3 linked regions of the Homo sapiens genome follow. The protein of the gene in region 3 purifies or fractionates together with the protein of the main gene of each other region. This does not show direct contact. Each region holds a gene or a part of one and is shown on either strand. Other genes may lie near its edges.

Region 1 (3,724 bases), on a different chromosome or scaffold from region 3:
AGACTGGTCTCAAACTCCTGACCTCAAGTGATCTGCCCGCCTTGGCCTCCCAAAGTGCTGGGATTACAGGCGTGAGGCACTATACCCGGCCTAGTACAGCCATCTTAACAATATTTTTACTCCACGAACATGAGATGTGTTCCATTTATTTAAGCTATTTTTTCAGCAATGTTTTGTAATTTATAGTGTACACATTTTTCCCTTCTCTGGTTAAACTATTCCTAGCTATTCTTTTGGATGCTGTTGTAAATTGAATTTTTTTTTTCAGTTTCCTTTTCAGTGTGTTCATTTCTGGTGTATAGAAACACAACTGACTTGTGTGTGTTGATCTTATACCCTATAACTTTGCTGAGCTTATTAGTTTTTTGTGGATTCTTTTCTTTGGGATTTTCTACGTGTATAATCATGTCATCTGCAAAGAGAGATAGCTTTACTTCCTTCCTAACTTGGAATCCTTTTCATTTCTGTTTCTTCCCTGATCGCTCTGCCTAGAACCTCTAGCCCCATGTTGAATAGCAGTGGTGAAAGCAGGCATCCTTGCCTTGTTGCTGATCTTTTTTCTTTTTTTCTTTTTTTTTTTTTTTTGAGACAGAGTCTCACTCTACATGTAGCCCAGGCTGGAATGCAGTGATGCGATCTCGGCTCACTGCAAGCTCCGCCTCCTGGGTTCACGCCATTCTCCTGCCTCAGCCTCCCGAGTAGCTGGGACTACAGGTGCCCACCACCATGCCAGGCTAATTTTTTTTTGTATTTTTAGCAGAGACAGGGTTTCACTGTGTTAGGATGGTCTCAATCTCCTGACCTCATGATCTGCCCACCTTGGCCTCCCAAAGTGCTGGGATTACAGGTGTGAGCCACCGCACCCGGCCCGTGGCTGATCTTAGGGGAAAATTTTGTCTCTCACCATTGGGTATGGTTAGCTGTTTTATTTTGTTGAGGAGGTTCCCCTCTATTCCTAGTGCTTTTCTCAGGAAAGAGTGTCGCGTTTGTGACTTTGACTGCTTGGTTGCAGGTGCGCACCACTGTGCCCGGCTGATTTTTGTTTTTTTTGTTTTGTTTTGTTTTGTGACGGAGTCTCGCTCTGTCGCCCAGGCTGGAGTGCAGTGGTGCAGTCTCGGCTCACTGCAAGCTCCGCCTCCCGGGTTCACGCCATTCTCCTGCCTCAGCCTCCCCAGCAGTTGGGACTACAGGTGCATGCTGCCACGCCCGGCTAATTTTTTGTATTTTTAGTAGAGACGGGGTTTCACCATGTTAGCCAGGATGGTCCCAATCTCCTGACTTTGTGATCCGCCTGCCTTGGCCTCCCAAAGTGCTGGGATTACAGGCGTAAGCCACCACGCCCGGCCTGATTTTTGTGTTTTCAGTAGAGATGGGGTGTTACCACATTGGCCAGGCTGGTCTCAAACTCCTGACCTCAAGTGTGATCCACCCACCTTGGCCTCCCAAAGTGCTGGGATTACAGGCAGGAGCCACTGCGTCCGGCCCCATCTGATTTCTTCACTACAGAGTTGCTGTCTTTTGTAATGATAATTACCATGTTATTTTTGAGTGGGATTAGACATCAATTTGTGACTCTCACCAGCACGCCTAAGGGCCCCACGAATCGCTGGTGTAGAGCGTGTGTGTTTTCATAACATGAAGGGAGAAGAGCAGTTGCGACAGTTGTCCCTGAGCAAACATTTGCATCCAGCTGGGCACGCGTGCCTCCCCAGGCTAGGGCAGCGGGTGCTCACCCTGCCCTCTTCCTGTTCACAGCCTGATTCGGACTCCACCAAACACTCAACTCCATCGAATAGCTCCAACCCCAGCGGCCCACCGAGCCCCAACTCCCCCCACAGGAGCCAGCTCCCCCTCGAAGGCCTGGAGCAGCCGGCCTGTGACACCTGAAGCCGCCAGCTCGCCACAGGGGCCAGGGAGCTGGAGATGGCCTCCAGCGTCAGTGCCAAGACTGAGCGGGCCCTCCAGTGTTGTCCAAGGAAATGTAGAATCACTTTGTAGATATGGAGATGAAGAAGACAAATCTTTATTATAATATTGATCAGTTTTATGCCGCATTGTTCGTGGCAGTAGACCACATCTGTTCGTCTGCACAGCTGTGAGGCGATGCTGTTCCATCTGCACATGAAGGACCCCCATACAGCCTGTCTCCCACCCCTGACAACCCGAGAGGGCATATGGGGCCCTGCCAACACCACTTCCTCAGCAGAAACCCGTCATGACGCGGCTGCTTCGGAAGCAGACATCTGGGGACACAGCCTCAGTACCCAGTCTTTTCCCTAGTTCCTGAAACTTTCCTAGGACCTTAAGAGAATAGTAGGAGGTCCTATAGCATTCCCAGTGTCACTAGAATTTTGAAGACAGGAAAGTGGAGGTTAGTCTGTGGCCTTTTTTTCATTTAGCCATTGCACAGTCAGCTGCAGAAGTCCTGCTGACCACCTAGTCATGGACAAAGGCCCAGGACCAGTGACACCCTGCGTCCCTGTGTGCATTAAGTTCATTCTGGGTCGCAGCCATGAAGTGTCACCAGTATCTACTACTGTGAAGTCAGCTGTGCTGTTTTCCATTCGCTTCCACGGCTTCTGCCTCCTGCCATAAAACCAGCGAGTGTCGTGGTGCAGGCAGGCCCTGTGGCCTGCTGGGCTGAGGGAAGTCAGAGCCCCAGGGCGCCACGAAGCAGCCACTGGGATACCCCACCCCGCCCCGCCCTGCCCGCCCCCCCCCCCACCAGTCCTGCCCCCGCATGGAGCCCCCGTGATTAGTAGCCCGTATGATCACGTAGACCCACCCAACACACTCCTGCACACTGGCCCCGGCCCACGGCACAGCAATCCCCTGCGCGTGGATTTCACCTCACCCTTTGTACCAGATGTTGAGTGACCAGCTCTGTGGCCCTGTGTCGTCAGAGGCTTGTGATTAACTGTGGCGGCAGACACAGCTTGTCCACAGCTTGGGCCAGGCTTCCCCTGTCCTCCCACCGGTCGGCTGCTTGGCAAGGCTGTTCAGGACGTGCACTTCCCCAAGTCGGCACTGAGTGGCCCAGCACCGCCTAGCCCTGCCACCCCACTGCCCTCCTGGGCCTTCTGCTGGATGGGCACCTGGGGGGTTCTGGTTTTTACTTTTTTAATGTAAGTCTCAGTCTTTGTAATTAATTATTGAATTGTGAGAACATTTTTGAACAATTTACCTGTCAATAAAGCAGAAGACGGCAGTTTTAAAGTTCCCAGTGGTCCGTTTGGATGTGGTAACATGTCACCCGTGTGTCTGGGCCCCAGAAGTGCCTGAGCTCCAAAAGGCAGTGAAGGAGCCACCTTGCAGAAGATGCTATTCGCCAGCAGAAGCTATTCTGGGTAACTCACTCGGAGGTCACCCAAAAGGCTGCTGTTGGGGTGTTCAGCCTGAACAGAGGGCATCCTTGGGGCAGGAGTGAAGGGAGGAGGGCAGCGTGCCTGTGAGCCCCAGCCAGGCAGTGCCAGGGCCCCAGGAGCAGGCTGCCCGCGAGGGTCTGCCTGTCCACACCCATACACGCCAACCCTGCCAGCAGCCCCAAGGGACAGGATGGGGTAGGCCAGAGGCCCCAGGAAGAGGCAGGAGTTCTCGGGGAGGTCTGGGCCAGGGTGAGTGGTCCCTGGTTGAGGGAATGCTCGGAGTCAGTTTCCTGAGTTATGCAGGGAGTTGGCTTCTATTTGCCACTCACTGAGACCTAGTTGTCCTTGGTAGGACAAGG
Region 2 (7,054 bases), on a different chromosome or scaffold from region 3:
AGAGTCCCCAAAATTTGCAAAACAGCACTATTTTATATTCCATTTTGGGTTTTTTAGTATTTTGAATTCTGAATTGCTTATTTCTTTAGCACTTGTTAGATTTTATAATACAGTATAATATTAAATCCTCAAATTGTACTTTTAAAATTTAAGCTAAAATACCCCAGGACTGGTAACTAATACTTTCACATAAAAGTCCTCCTTAAAGGATCTAAGGAACATCTAATCTTGTTTTAGCTATTCTCCACATCCCTAACCCTGGACTTTGCTCAGAAAGAAAAAAAAAATCTGGTTGCCCTTGGATAACTATGGAGGGGCCAGGAAAATGCGTGAATTTGGGCAGCTGTAATAGAACAGAAATGTATATTTTCAAAGTCTCTTTTATCCAGGTGTCATAGAGCGCCTGACGTTTTTTCATCAAAAGATCTGAGTAGTGTAAGCTGATTATCTCTCTTTTTTTTTTTTTTTTGAGACGAAGTCTCGCTCTTGTTCCCCAGGCTGGAGTGCAATGGCGTGACCATGGCTCACTGCAACCTCTGCCTCCTGGGTTCAAGCTATTCTCCTGCCTCAGCCTCCAGAGTATCCAGGATTACAGGCGCCTGCCACCACTCCTGGCTAATTTTTGCATTTTTAGTAGAGACGGGGTTTCACCATGTTGGCCAGGCTGGTCTTGAACTCCTGACCTCAGGTGATCCACCCGCCTCGGCCTCCCAAAGTGCTGGGGTTACAGGCGTGAGCCCCTGTGCCCGGCCTGGTTATCTCTTTTCAATGGAGAAACTGAGACATATAATAATAAACTAATTAGCCCAGCATGATCTGGCAAGAACCCCACTACAGGTCCCAGGTTGTGATTACTGAAACACAACTCCTTCCTATGAACAAACTCATATTCTTTGTGTGTAATGCTAAATAAAAATCTTAGTTTTAAGAATTACTTGTTATAAGTTAGAGATTAATTTTAGGAGAAGCATGCCTTTTACATTTTTGACCTTGGAATTTAAAAACTAAAATGTGGCATTAAAGGTTTTTTTTTTTTAATTAAGAAAAGAGAATTTCTGTTACATCAAGGAAGAAAGGAAACAAGTCAGAAGCTATTTAGTTTTATGTGTGCTGATATATATAGATATCCTTATTCAGATCTCTAAGATGAAACAGTCCAAGGTCAGATACTGGAAGACCAGGAGAGTGTTTTGATCTTGTGGGGAGTGATCCTGACTACATAGAGGTTCTGCAAAGTCCTAGTTCTATCACCTGTATCTTGGCTCAGTTTCCTAACAATGTAATGGATAATACCAAATACTTTCTACAAATTTATTTTTAAATGCTTTGTGGACTTGTGAATACTTGCTGACTGAATCAGTTAAACTTTAGGGACAGCCAAAAATTTGTATACTGTTCAGGTAGCATTTACTGTACTGTAGGGGCCATTTTCCTGATTAATACTTTGGTGGTTTGGGTGTAAGTAATTCTTAGTGCTTCAGGTACACTCAGGATATACATTTGTCAGCAGATAGGAATTAACCATGTTTGTTTTCAAAGAAAGATAAGTAATGTTTCTGTATATATATTTTTTCATTTTGACTTGGATATTTTTCAAAGTACAGGGGCAAACGAGCCACATTTCAGAAATAAGGATATGTTTCACAGTATGTTGTGGTGATTTATACAAACTTCATAGTGAATCTAGTTTAAGGATGAACTCCCTGACTTACCTATGCTTTTATGTTAGGGAAAAAACTGGCTAAAGTTGTTTTAATTGTTATTTATTTATTTATTTATAAGAAACAGGGTCTCCCTCTGTTGCCCAGGCTGGAATGCAGAGGTACAATCATAGCTCACTGTAGCCTCAAACTCCTGGGCTGAAGCAATCCTCCCTCCTCAGCCTCCTGAGTAGCTGAGACTACCGGCATGTGCCACCACACCTGGCTAATTAAAAAAATTTTTGTTTTGTAGAGGCAAGGTCTCACTATGTTGCCCAGGCTGGTCTCAAACTGAACTCCTGGCCACAAGCGATCCTCCTGCCTGCCTCAGCCTCCCAGAGTGCTGGGATTACAGACATGAGCCACTGTGCCTGGTCTAAATTCTTTATTTATAATTTCATATTCCATAATAATAAACATCTTGAGATTAAATATTTTGTTACTAGGTAATGATTTTTTATAGCCATTTACTCTTGATAATAGCTTGATATGATTTGTGCCATAATGGATTTTGTTTTCAGGACTTGTAATATAATTTCATGGGCAGAGAGTATGTTGTTGAACTAAGGCAGTGAGTGGCTCTCAAACTAGCATACATCAGAATCACCTGGACAGTTTAATAAAACCCAGATTGCTGAGCACCATCCCCAGAGTTTCTGATTCAGTAGGTTTGGGCAGGAGCCCAAGAGCTTGCATTTCTAATAAGTTCCCAGGTGACGCTGATGCCGCTGATCTGGGGATAACACTTTGAGACCCACTGAACTAAAGTGAATGAGAAATTTGCTGAAATTGCCTGAGCATGTGAAAGGATCATGCCTTGTGTGCCTTTTAAAAACTGCTGTTTTGACATTACGCTTTTTTTAAAAGGGCGTATTTTTCACCAGAATTACAGAGTACTTAAATTTTGAATGATTATGGTGATGAATATTAATAATAAAATATCAGGGGTTTAAATAGAATGCTGAAATTAAACCATGTAAATTGCAAAAGTACATTTTAAATTCTGAATTACAGTAGGTCTGGTTCGTGGTTAGTCAAACACCTGGATACTTACATGTGTGTTTTTTAGTATGCATTATATGGATGAATATTATAATGGCCTAGCTTCCTGCCTTTGGAGAAATGGAAAAGAAATGTGAAGTGACCTAGTTAAACCATCATTTTAACTTTACCACCTCTCCCAGATTTTCTCAGGCAGATTTCTTGAGTCCTAACTTGGTAATACTTGTGTAACTTTACTTCAGTGATCTCGGGTCAGACCTTGACTGTAAATATACTACACTAAGTAGGTGATTGATTCATCTGAGAACTCTGTGGCATCATTGCCCTCTCTGTCTAGCAGTCAAAGTAAAGTTATTGACAGATCATCTGCTCTCCTAAGTCACTGGATATGGCAGGAGAAAATGAACCCAGAAAACAAAATGAAGGATAGTGAAATGCAGACACCAGTGATGTCTGCAGCTTTCTCTATACCCAGTGTGGTGGAAGGAGAAAAAGGCAGCACTCTTCTTTCTAATTAAATCCGCATAGCACACTTATTTTCTCATTGTTTCAGCTAAGGGTATGCTGCTATCCCTGTATTTGGTAAAGAGAGATAATGATGATTTGTTTTATAAATGACAAAAGAAAGACTGCTTCCTGCTGCCTAATCTGCAGAGGCACAATGATGACATAGAACTTGCTTTCTCCTTTTCCTGAGAATAACTCCTCATGTTGGGTATATTTGGCCCATTGAAGTTATATATAATTCCTATTCTATGAGAATTTGTTTTATACCTTTGTGAATTGAAGAGAACATACATGTCTTGTGTGTTTTGTTTTTATTGTTTAGGAGAAAACTGATGTGGAAGGAACCTTATTTGTTTATACAAGGTAAGAGTGTTTCACTTTTATAAAGAAACTAATCTTCAAAATAATATTTTAGCTCCGTTGTGTCACTCTTCTTCAAGTGCATGCAGTTTTATTTCAAAAAGAAGTAAAAGAATTAAATCTCAGTTTTGAAATTATTAGTTGACACGAAGAAGGGAATACCAAATAATGTCACCTGGTATATCGTGATGAATACTAATTTCAGAATATAATTTAAACTTCAATGTAGATGAACTTAAATCATTGACTGGGCACTGTTTAAAATAGATTAAATATTCTTTGATTCAAGTGAATGGCACAAAGTTCTTGAATATAATGCATTGGCAAGGAGCTAGAAGAACACTATCAGAAATACTAGATTGTTCAGTTAATATTTGGAAAAGGGTTTCATTGATCATTTTTCTTTTTTTTGAGATGGAGTCTCGCTCTGTCACCAAGGCTGGAGTGCAGTGGCACGATCACAGCTCTTGGCTTGCTGCAACCTCTGCCTCCTGAGTTCAAGTGATTCTCCTGCCTCAGCCTTCTGAGTAGCTGGGATTACAGGCATGCGCCACCACGCCCAGCTAATTTTTAGTAGCAACGGAGGTTTCACCATGTTGGTCAGGCTGGTCTCAAACTCCTGACCTCGTGATCCACCCGCCTTGGCCTCCTAAAGTGCTGGGATTACAGGCGTGAGCCACCGCACCTGGCTGTTGATCACTTTTCTCCCACCCCTGACTCTTTAAAAAAGCATGATCCAAAATTGAAGATGTCTTTCAGTCCTCCATTGTCTAGTCAATAGAATATGTTTCAGGATAGATTTAATAAACTCATGTTTTTAGTCATTTCTTGTTATCAGATATTAATATCAAATTACGAGTGCATATAGAGACATACATTATGTATATTGGCTCAATAAATAAACTTTTCATTCACATAAACATTCACATAAAATGTCATAGCCAAAGGTCATCACCTTCAATGAGGGTACAAAGATGAAATTAAAAGACCTAATATAAACCTTTCTAGGGGTATCTGTTTCACTGGGGAGACAGGAAATACACACACACAAGTGTATTTTCTTTCCACATATATTCATGTTTATGGTAAGCCACAATACAGGATAGAGTATCCTAAGTGCCAGTGGATAGATTCTGAGCAATGAATGGGCTGCTGTGATCATGGAAGGCTTTATCGCAAGCTTGTCCAACCCACGGCCCATAGGACACGTGGCCCAAGATGGCTTTGAATGTAGCCTGACAGAAATTCGTAAACTTCTTTAAAACATTAGAAGAGTTTGTTGTTTTTTTTTTTTTTTTTTTTTTTTTTTTTTTTTTTTTTTAGCTCATCAGCTATTATTAGTGTATTTTATGTGTGGCCCAAGACAATTCTTCCCTTTCCAAGGTGTCCCAGGAAGGCCAAAAGATTGGACACCCCTGCTTTATAGAGTGATGTGTCTTGAATTGGGCCTCAGGAATATGGTGGAACTTAGCTTGCATAGAGGAGAGGGAAGGCAGTCTCAACAGGAAGAATGGCAAAAGCAGGGGCGGAGAACCTGGTGTGTTAAAGGGACAGTGAGGGAGATGTGGTGCAGAGGGCTTATACTGGTTTATAGTAGTTAGCAAGTGTAAAGAGATTTGCTAGCTTGGAATGGCAGACTCTGGATTTTGAGATTATTTTCTTAGCAGTAGGAAGTTATTGAAGGCTTATGAACAGGAGAGTAATAGAGAAAATGTATGGGGAAAGTCAGTGTATTCACTTCATGGGGACGCACTAGTTCTGGAAGAAATTGGAGTCAGGACAGTGAGAAGATTATTGCAGTGGGGTAGATATGAAATGATGAGAGTTGGGATTAGAATAATAGAAATTGAAATGGAAAGGGTATTGCAATGGTGAAATTTTAAAAATGACAATATTTTGAACATGGAAGATTGAGAATGACAGAAGCATTGGTGGAAAAGAAAGACAGGAGGTCAAGAATGTGGCTTGAGGATCAGCCCTCATTTTACTTTGAAGTAATGATTTGGAACTGGTAGCAGGACACTTGGGTGGAGGTGGCCAGCCCCTCAGAGTAAGGGCAGGGCTGGAGATGGTTTAGAGTTGTCTGAAGTAATTTGGTAGTTGAAACCATGAAATAAAAGCTGTTCCCTGAAGGAGTGAGTATAAAGAGGAACCGATGAGGGTTTATGGTTAGGTTTGAGGGCCAGCAAGGATACAGATGAGTCAGCTGGAAAGATAAAAGCAGGACTAGAACAGCACAGAGAGGCCCATTTGGGGCAAAGTGTGGGCATGATGGAGGTCTGTGTATGCTGGGCAGGAGGGAGCTCAGCTGCAGGGGAGGAAGGTCTGTTCCAGTGGAGGCAACAATGGGAGGTGGAAGGAAGGAATGGGAGGCAAGGCCAGCACACTTGGTGACAAGGAGGTCAGGTTCTTCACAGTCTCAGAAGAGCAGTGGAGTACCCAAGAACCGTTGGTATATGAGTCTACATTATGCTCCCAAACATCCAGAGCACCAGAGCATGCCCCCAGGCAAGTTTATTGGGTAGAGTATGAGCACTCTTGAGGATTCTGAAGTTTACAACAAAAGCCATAGGGTTGCACTGTACTATGTGCCATGCACACAGGGTGCGTTCTCACTCATCTCTCACAACACGCATTATGATTCTTTGGAGAAGTGACAGAAAAGATGTATTAGTAAGTATTAATGATTGATTTGGGGAATTTTTAGTAGGGTTTTTTTTTAACTATGGAAGAGGAACAAATCATACAAATATTTTCTTTTGTACATCCAGACCAAATATAAGTTTGTATTTTCAAGGATTTCTTACTATACTCTAAGTCTCTAATGGAACTCTCAATTAAACAAAACATTAAATTGAGAAAAAAATCCTTTGCTGTTTTTTAGTCTTTTCTCCAAATCTAACTCCTCAAGAATGGGATGCCTCCCTTATCCCCTGCAAAACAAAAACCTCCCAGATCCTAGAATGTTGAAGGCTTTCTTCAGTAGCGAATTACAAAAAGCATGTAAAACTCATGGTGGGTGGGGGGTGGGAGGCTTGTTACAGGGAATGGAGCTGGCAGTGATTTATTTTGACTTCTCTTACAGAAGTTGCTTTAGAGCAGTTGGCACATTTATCCCCTGGGCCTATTTTCTAAATTATGAGATGCTATAGTAGCTGTACTATTAAAGAGGTGAGATCCTGTTGTGATAATGAAATACATGCAGAATCAAATTCTCATTCTTGTATGAAAACACTTAATCCCATTTAAAAAATCATTTATTTCCTCCCATGCCTTCCTTTCTGTAATAGAGAGTTCATAGAGACACCCACTGGTGATTTCTGAACTTGACAGTTCCAGAAGACCCCTAACAGAGCTCTTTGGGAGTACATTTTCATTCTTCCTCTGAATTTAAGTTGAAGTGATGATCATGATTATTTCTGGTATTGATTGTATGCTTACCACCACTTTACCCCTTTGTAAAATAAGCTAGGCAAGGATTGCCT
Region 3 (6,982 bases):
ATGCCCCCAGTGGGAGAAGGTGAACCCTCATCCTCTTCAGGTTTCTGCAAAGGCCGCTGGGGAGGAGGATCACACTTATGGGCACCCGAGGGACCTTCTGGAAATTCCTCAGTGAAGAGAGCTTTGTGGTGGGGGAGCAAAGCCACCCCCCACTATAGATGACAACTTGGGGGGAGCTACTATGTGCTTGCTAAGGCCACGTGGCAGGGCCCTGGCATGGAGAGGAGCCTGACGCTAGACAGCTGCTGCTAGAGAAGAGAGGCCCCCTTGACGGCTGTGCCCACAGGGAGACTGGGCTACTGCTCAGCAAAGTCCTCTCGAGAGTGGCTGATGGATGAGATTTGATGCTGCCTGGCAGAGATGAGCAGGCAGGCAGTGTGCAGAAGGAAAGGGGGTGAGGTGGGAGCAGCCCCCCTTGAACTGCTCTGCTCACCTTCTTTCTCCATGCTTGTCCTTCCTCTCCAACACTTCTCCAGAGAGAAGTGGTAGGGGTCAGGGTGGGGAAGAGTTGGCCTTTAATGGACAGGGCAACGGTCCTAACCAGGGAAAAGCTGAGACCTGCGGCCTACCTGACTCATCCTGGCAACACGGCCCTCGGTGGCAGCTCAGACTCTACAGGTGATTGCAGAGCCAGTGAGGCTCACCTGCCGCCCCTCCTAAACTCTTTTCCCACCCTGTCCCATCCTTCCTGCTCCCCACCTCCCCCTGCCCACCATGTAGCCCATCCTCAGCCCCTCAAGGTCTGTTTCAGTCTGTGCTTTTCCTTCCTGTCTCCACATGGCAATCCAAGTCTCGGGGTGCATTTGCACAGTAACAGCCAGCCAGGCTAATCCTAAGGGATTTCCAGTTAGTGGCACGTGCGTGCTCTCCCACCCCTGGTCTGGAAACCAGGAGCAAAGTGCTCAGTTACTCATTTTCCGCCTTTGCAAGCAGCTCAAGTCCCTTGGGAAAGCACAGCTCCCAAAGGGTTCTGGGAATACCGGGGCTCCTGTAGGGCCAACGGGGCTTTCTGTGAGCAAGATTTGCCTAGAGAACACAGCAGCCAGGGTGTGAGAAGCCTAGCAAGTAGTTTCTTCCTCATTGGCCTGGGGCTCTGTGGCTCTCTCTCAGCAAATAGTTAGGCATGGCCTTAATTTATTTCCCTGCCAGAGTTCCTCCTGGAGGGGGGCCAAGCTAGTAGACAGGAAGGCGGGGACTGGCAATTTAGTAGAAATCCATGCATGTAATTGCGAGGACCAGAAGAACAGGAGCAAGTGCGCAGGGAGTCTGGGGGCTCTGGGCAGGCAAGGAGGAGAACAGGGTGTGGGGGAGCAACCCTTTCTTCTGCTTCAGGTGGGAAGAATTGAGGCCGGCCAGGCCCAACAACACAGCCTTGCAAGCTCCTAATAGAAGAAATGGCTTTCCTGGCTCCACAGGGTTCCTCAAGCAGGCAGGGGACCTTCTCAGGTCATAAGATGAGCCCCACGACACAGTTCTCATTTCATCTGGGCGTGAGTGGTTTCTGCCCCTCTCTGGGCCTTAGATGCCTCAGATTTCCCAAAGCAGCCTTCGTCTGAGAGCACTGTCCCGGGAGTCAGGCACGTGAGGCTGACTCTCTGCTCTCTCACCAGGTGTGGGAGCCACACCAGGTCACTCAATTTCTTAGAGTCCCATTGGCAAAACGGATAATAGAGTCTCCTTGAAGACTGATGGGGAGGATGGAGTGACCAAGGGATGCGAAGGGTTTCTAAGTAGTGCATGGTCCATAAATGCACTCAAGAAAGAAGAGCTGTCATCTTTATCCATTCCAAGCACAGCCCATGGCTGCTTTCCAAGCTCCTTAAAAACACGCTGCAGAAGTTCCTATCCTGCCAACGCCCTCAGGCAACAGGCGCCACAGCACCTCTGCTTTCCCAAGACTTTGTCCACGCTCTCCACGCTCCATCCCGAGCTTAGTGAGGGGCAGGACTGTGTCTACTGTGTCAGTGGGAAGCTGCTTTGGAGCATGTGCCCCTTGGTGAAAACCCTGTGGATAGGACGTGATCTCATCTTCTGGGATTCTCCAGCAATGACGGGGAGTTTGTGGAAACTTGACTTGGGAGAACCTGCTTGCAGGCATACGGCAGTGGCCAGCCCCCAACCTAGAGTCAACCCTCCTTCCAGATCTTCCCAGGAGGTCCCAGTCCTCAGAATTCCCTCCAAGCCCCGCCGGGAATAAAAACCAGGCAGTAACGGGTGTGCAGAAAACCTATACATCCAACCTAACTTGGCTGAAGAAGACACCCTCCCCCCCGCCGTCTGTGCTCCGGTGTCTCGGTGACTCAGGGTGCCCACCTTCACGGCTGACCTGCTCATTCCCGGGGGCCCCTGCGGCTGTGCCGTTCCCTCAGGTCACACTGGCTTGGGTCCTTAGAGCACCCTTGGGTCCAGGTGCCCTGGGCCACCTCCCATTAGTTAGGGACCGCATCCGTGGGGACAGAAACTTCCATCTCACTGAACCTATACACAGGAGCCAGGCTGGGCTTGGAGGTCACCAGCCGCCTGGGAGTGGACCCGGAGAGGCTGAGTGCGGCCCTCCCTCTCAGACGGCAGACCCCGAACCTCCACCCAGAATCCGAGCCCGGACACGGCCAGCAGGGAGCTAGGAGATGAAGTCCAGCCCTGGCTGCCCGGCTCCTCTGGGAGGGCAGCGAACCCGCGGGAGCGCATGAGCGGCCTCTCCCGGGGGGGCGGTAGGAGCGCGTCCCCTCCAGGGCGCTTTGGGATCGGGCTGCTCCGGGCCAGTGCTCGCGCTGGGGACCTGCGACGCCTCAGCCCCTGCCCAGACTGCGCCGCCCGCCGCGGCCACACCTCCCAGTCCCTGGGAAAGTCCCCGCCGCCGGCGCGAACCCACCTTCCGGGAGCCCAGGGGCCCTGCTGGGGACTCGCCGGTGTCCCCGCCGCCTCCTCCTGCGCGGGTCCGCGCTGCCCGGCCTCAGCTCAGGGCTCCCGCCTCGCCTCCCCGAGCTCCGGTGAATTCTCGGCGCTGCTCCTTTCGGAAAGGACTTTTTTTTTCCCCCTGCGTTGCGTCAGGGCGGTTGCCTGGCGACGGCCGAGCTCTCCGCCGCGAGCCTTTCACCGCGATCCCGGCCTCGCGTTCTCGCCCCGGGTCCGAGCGCGCCCCGGGTCCTAGCGCCCTGTCGGTTCACCGGCCCGGGCAGCCCCCGCGAGTGGAGAGGAACTACATGCCTTCGCCAAACCCCAGATGAAACCAAACCCAAACATCCATTTTCTCATTAAACCCGAAACCAAGGCAGTTTCCCCCAATTGTGGCAACGTGACTGCGCCACTGTCAGAAGTTTGTCCGCATGGAGGGCGCAGGGGGACCCCACGCCCAGGGCCTCACCCACCCCCAAACGGCAGGAGTTCATAGGACCCGCGGCCACGACTGCCCGCGAGCGCCTACCGTGGGCCACGCCCCCCAACGACCCAGCAGGGCAAGTGTAGGCATCTCTGGCTGCCAGATGAGGAAACTGAGGTGCAAAGACGCGAGCGTTTGCCCCACTAACCACAGGGTGTCTGTCCCGCCAGGGGCGCGGCATCGGCCACCTCTGGCTGTCGTTAGATTCTAAGACCCAGTCCCTGCTGCATCAGAGCCCAGAGCTGCAAACCCTAAGGCACAGGCAGGACAGCAGCCCGAGCTGCCCGGACCGCAGGTCTTCAGGACCAGTCCCAGCTTCTGACGAGGGGCCCAGGCCAGACACTGGAGGCCCCAAGGCTGGTTACTGGATGGGGGTCTCTTACCCCAGACCTCATCAAGCACCTTTCCTAGATGCCCGGGGCTGGAAGCGTCTTTCAAAGGGCTCCAGTCTGCCATTCTCACGATAGCCCTGGGCGTGCGCGCAGGCGCCGCCTACATGGCCAGACGCGAAGCTGAGTGGTGGGGCTGCAAAGTGACTGGCGCAGGCTCCAGGCAGGTGCGCGGCTGGTCGGGCCTTCTGTGGGGTCTTAGCCCCTGCAGGGGCCCGAGACACTCGTGCTGCCCTCTGGTGCCCGCGTCCTTCACTGCAACTCCGCATCCAGCCCTGACCTACTCCCTTCCTTTCTGACCTTCACTGGAAGGTCCTCTGAGGGACGTCGTCTAAGGAGACATCTTGCCAGTACAGACCTAGTCATGCTAATGAGGGAACGGTCCTAAGCTAGCGGGTGTATTAACAAGCATCTTTTGGAGAGTCACAGCCTTGATCCAGATCTTCTGATTCCAGCTCCTAAACATCACTCCTTCCTTCTTCCTGCCCGCTGCCACTGTCCCTACCCAAGCCACCAGCAGCTTGCCCTACCCAGTTCTGGGACCTGCCACCCGGGTCCAAGCGTGCACGCAGTCTCCATACTGATCTCCCTTTACCCTCTCTCAGCGCCTCCCAAGCCAGTTACTCCTCCACAAACAGGGGAAACTCTTAAGAATGGAAATCCAGTCTCAGCTGCTTCTGCTTAAAGGCCTTCAACGCCCCCAGTCCTCTGAGGATTAACAGCTAGCTTGGCTGCAGGGGCCTGGCTGGCCTCTGTCCGTCTCTAGGGCCTTGTCTTGCACAGACCCTGCTCCCCAGACAACAGACCCTCTTCCAGTCCCATTGTGCACCTGCTCCTCCCGACAGGCTGCTGCAGCTCTGCCTCCTAAGGGAACCCCAGGTTACAGGTGCTGGCAGCCCCCTGCCTTATGTCCTTCATGGACCAGTTATAATTCCAAGTTTACCTGTGAGGTTATTTGATTAGTATGTGTCTCCCTCTGAGGCAGTAGGCTCCGGAAGGGCATGAACCATGTTTGCAAGCAGGAGCCTCAATCTGGACTTGGGGATAAAGCATCCTTCTGGGTGCTGGCTGTTTCTGACCACAGCCCCGGTGCTGAGCCCTAGTTGGCTGCATTGCTCACTGGTGTGCCCATGGCCCTGGCACGTGGTGAATGCTCCAAGATCTTTTTGGATGGGCCATTCAGCCCCATCTGGAAATGCTTTGTCCCACCTCTACCTCCTGGCTCCCTGTTTGACCTATGGCTTCTATTTCTGGGAGTGCAGATGCTTTCTCATGGGGGAATTGTGGCATGCCTCAAATGGACAGGCAGCCTGTCCAAGGCAAGGGTGGTGTCTTGCCCTGTGGCTCCCATTCTGCCTGGCATTTGTCTGCGGGCAGGAGGGTAATCAGTGATGGGGACCAGGAGGAGAGTGGGCCAGAGGAAAGAGGAAGGGGAGGAGGAAGAGCAGTCTTGGTTGGAGTAGCCTCAACTCCAAAGTGAAATCATATGGAGTGGTCAAATAAATGAGTTAGCACAGAATGGTATGTAGCCATAGAAATAATATTCTCAAAAGCTATTTGATCATATAGAAAAATACTAACGATTTAACGCTAAGTAAATAAGACTGGGACACCAAATCCTGTGTACATTATGAAACTTCTCATTCCAATATCTAATTCATATGTATGCATGGAAAAAAGATTGGAAGAGTGTATGCAAATATTAGCTGTCGTTATCTCTGGGCTGCAGGATAATGGAGGATTTAAAATGTCTTCTGTAAGCCTGCATTCGTTTTCTACAATGAATCGTTTTGTAATGAGAAACATCAAGAAACACTACTCAAAAGGGAAGATGGCACTGTGTTGGTGTTTCTGATGGCACTTCCTTTTGTGTCAGGCACACTGAAACCCAGTGATGGTGGGAGGATCTGGGTGGGCCAGAGAAGGCAAGGCCACCTAGAGGTTCTCTCTTCCCTTTGATTCCTTACAGAGAAGTTTTCTTTCCGTTGGTGCATGATGCATGAGACATTGCCTCTTATAATCCTACAGGAAGCTGTGAAATAGATGAGTCAAGAAAAATGCCCAACCAGGCATGGTAGCTCACACCTGTAATCCCAGCAATTTGGGAGGCCGAGGCAGGGGGATTGCTTGAGCCCAGGAATTGGAGACCAGCCTGGGCAACATGGTGAGACCCCACTTCTACAAAAAAAAAATGAAGAAGAAGAAAGAAAACTCAGCTGGGCATGGTGGTACACACCTGAAGTCCCAGCTACTTGGGAGGCTGAGGTGGGACTGCTGGAACCCAGGAGTTGAAGGTTGCAGTCAGCCATGATTGCACCACCGCACTCCAGCCTGGGCAACAGAGCAAGACCCTGTCTCAAAAATAAATAAATAAATAAATAAATAAATAAATAAATAAATAAAAGATTTAAACTTAAAATATTCTTTCAGAATTTCTCCCAATTCGTTTATTCATCTGTTCAATAAATACGTATTAGTACCACTAAATACCAGACATTGTTCTAGGCTCTTGGGAAATGTTAGTGAACAAGTTAGATGAAGGACCTCGCCCTTGAGAACTGATAATCTAGCAGAGGAAAGCAGGCAGACGATGACCGACAAATACGCTAAGTAAATAAGCAATATTGTGAGTGATAGAAAAACAGAATTGTAGACTTGGATTGGAAGTAATGGCAGAGGAGGGGAAGAGTGTGCACGTTTTCAGGCAAGGTAGGCAGGGCTGGCCTCGCTAATAAGGTGGTTTTCTAGCAAAGATTTGAGGGAGACGATGGAGGGGGTCTTGTGGTGTCTTGGGGAAGGGTGTTCTAGGGAAAGGGTCAGTGCAGAGGCCCTGGGCCAACAAACGTGCCTGCCACAATCAGGGGCCAGCATGGATGCCTCGAGGCCAGAATGCAGCAGGCAGGGAGTAGAGCATGGGTGGGAGATGACATCAGAGACAGGGCAGGGCAGGTGCTGCGGCAGAGCCCTTGGGCCTGGCAGACCTCGTGAGGACTGGCCTTCCCCCGAGGGGAGCTCCAAATGCACAGCTGGAACCAGACTCTGCTCTCTTGTCACTCTCAGGGCACAAAGCCCTCTCTAAATCAGTCTCTCCTGATCCCTTTTGAGTCTATAAGCTACTTGAAGGCGATTCCTGGATTCTAGGGATACAAGAGAAGGAAGGATGAAATTTCTGTTGGGCTCTGTGGGACAGAGGACACTAAGGGTGGCGACATCC

What was found.
Region 1: the proteins of FAM167A (region 3) and CDC42BPB purify together in Homo sapiens (co-immunoprecipitation; 4 studies listed by BioGRID and IntAct, with this or other methods). This does not show direct contact.
Region 2: the proteins of FAM167A (region 3) and DCP1B purify together in Homo sapiens (co-immunoprecipitation; 3 studies listed by BioGRID and IntAct, with this or other methods). This does not show direct contact.

The regions. Positions count from the first base shown.
Region 1 is NC_000014.9:102,931,875-102,935,598, reverse strand, and holds the end of CDC42BPB (serine/threonine-protein kinase MRCK beta), read left to right. Parts: intron 1-1,755; coding exon 1,756-1,887; 3' UTR 1,888-3,219; downstream 3,220-3,724. UniProt on the Homo sapiens protein: Serine/threonine-protein kinase which is an important downstream effector of CDC42 and plays a role in the regulation of cytoskeleton reorganization and cell migration. Regulates actin cytoskeletal reorganization via phosphorylation of PPP1R12C and MYL9/MLC2.
Region 2 is NC_000012.12:1,994,453-2,001,506, reverse strand, and holds part of DCP1B (mRNA-decapping enzyme 1B), read left to right. Parts: intron 1-3,531; coding exon 3,532-3,572; intron 3,573-7,054. UniProt on the Homo sapiens protein: May play a role in the degradation of mRNAs, both in normal mRNA turnover and in nonsense-mediated mRNA decay. May remove the 7-methyl guanine cap structure from mRNA molecules, yielding a 5'-phosphorylated mRNA fragment and 7m-GDP.
Region 3 is NC_000008.11:11,463,754-11,470,735, forward strand, and holds the start of FAM167A (protein FAM167A), read right to left. Parts: upstream 3,001-6,982; 5' UTR 2,873-3,000; intron 1-2,872.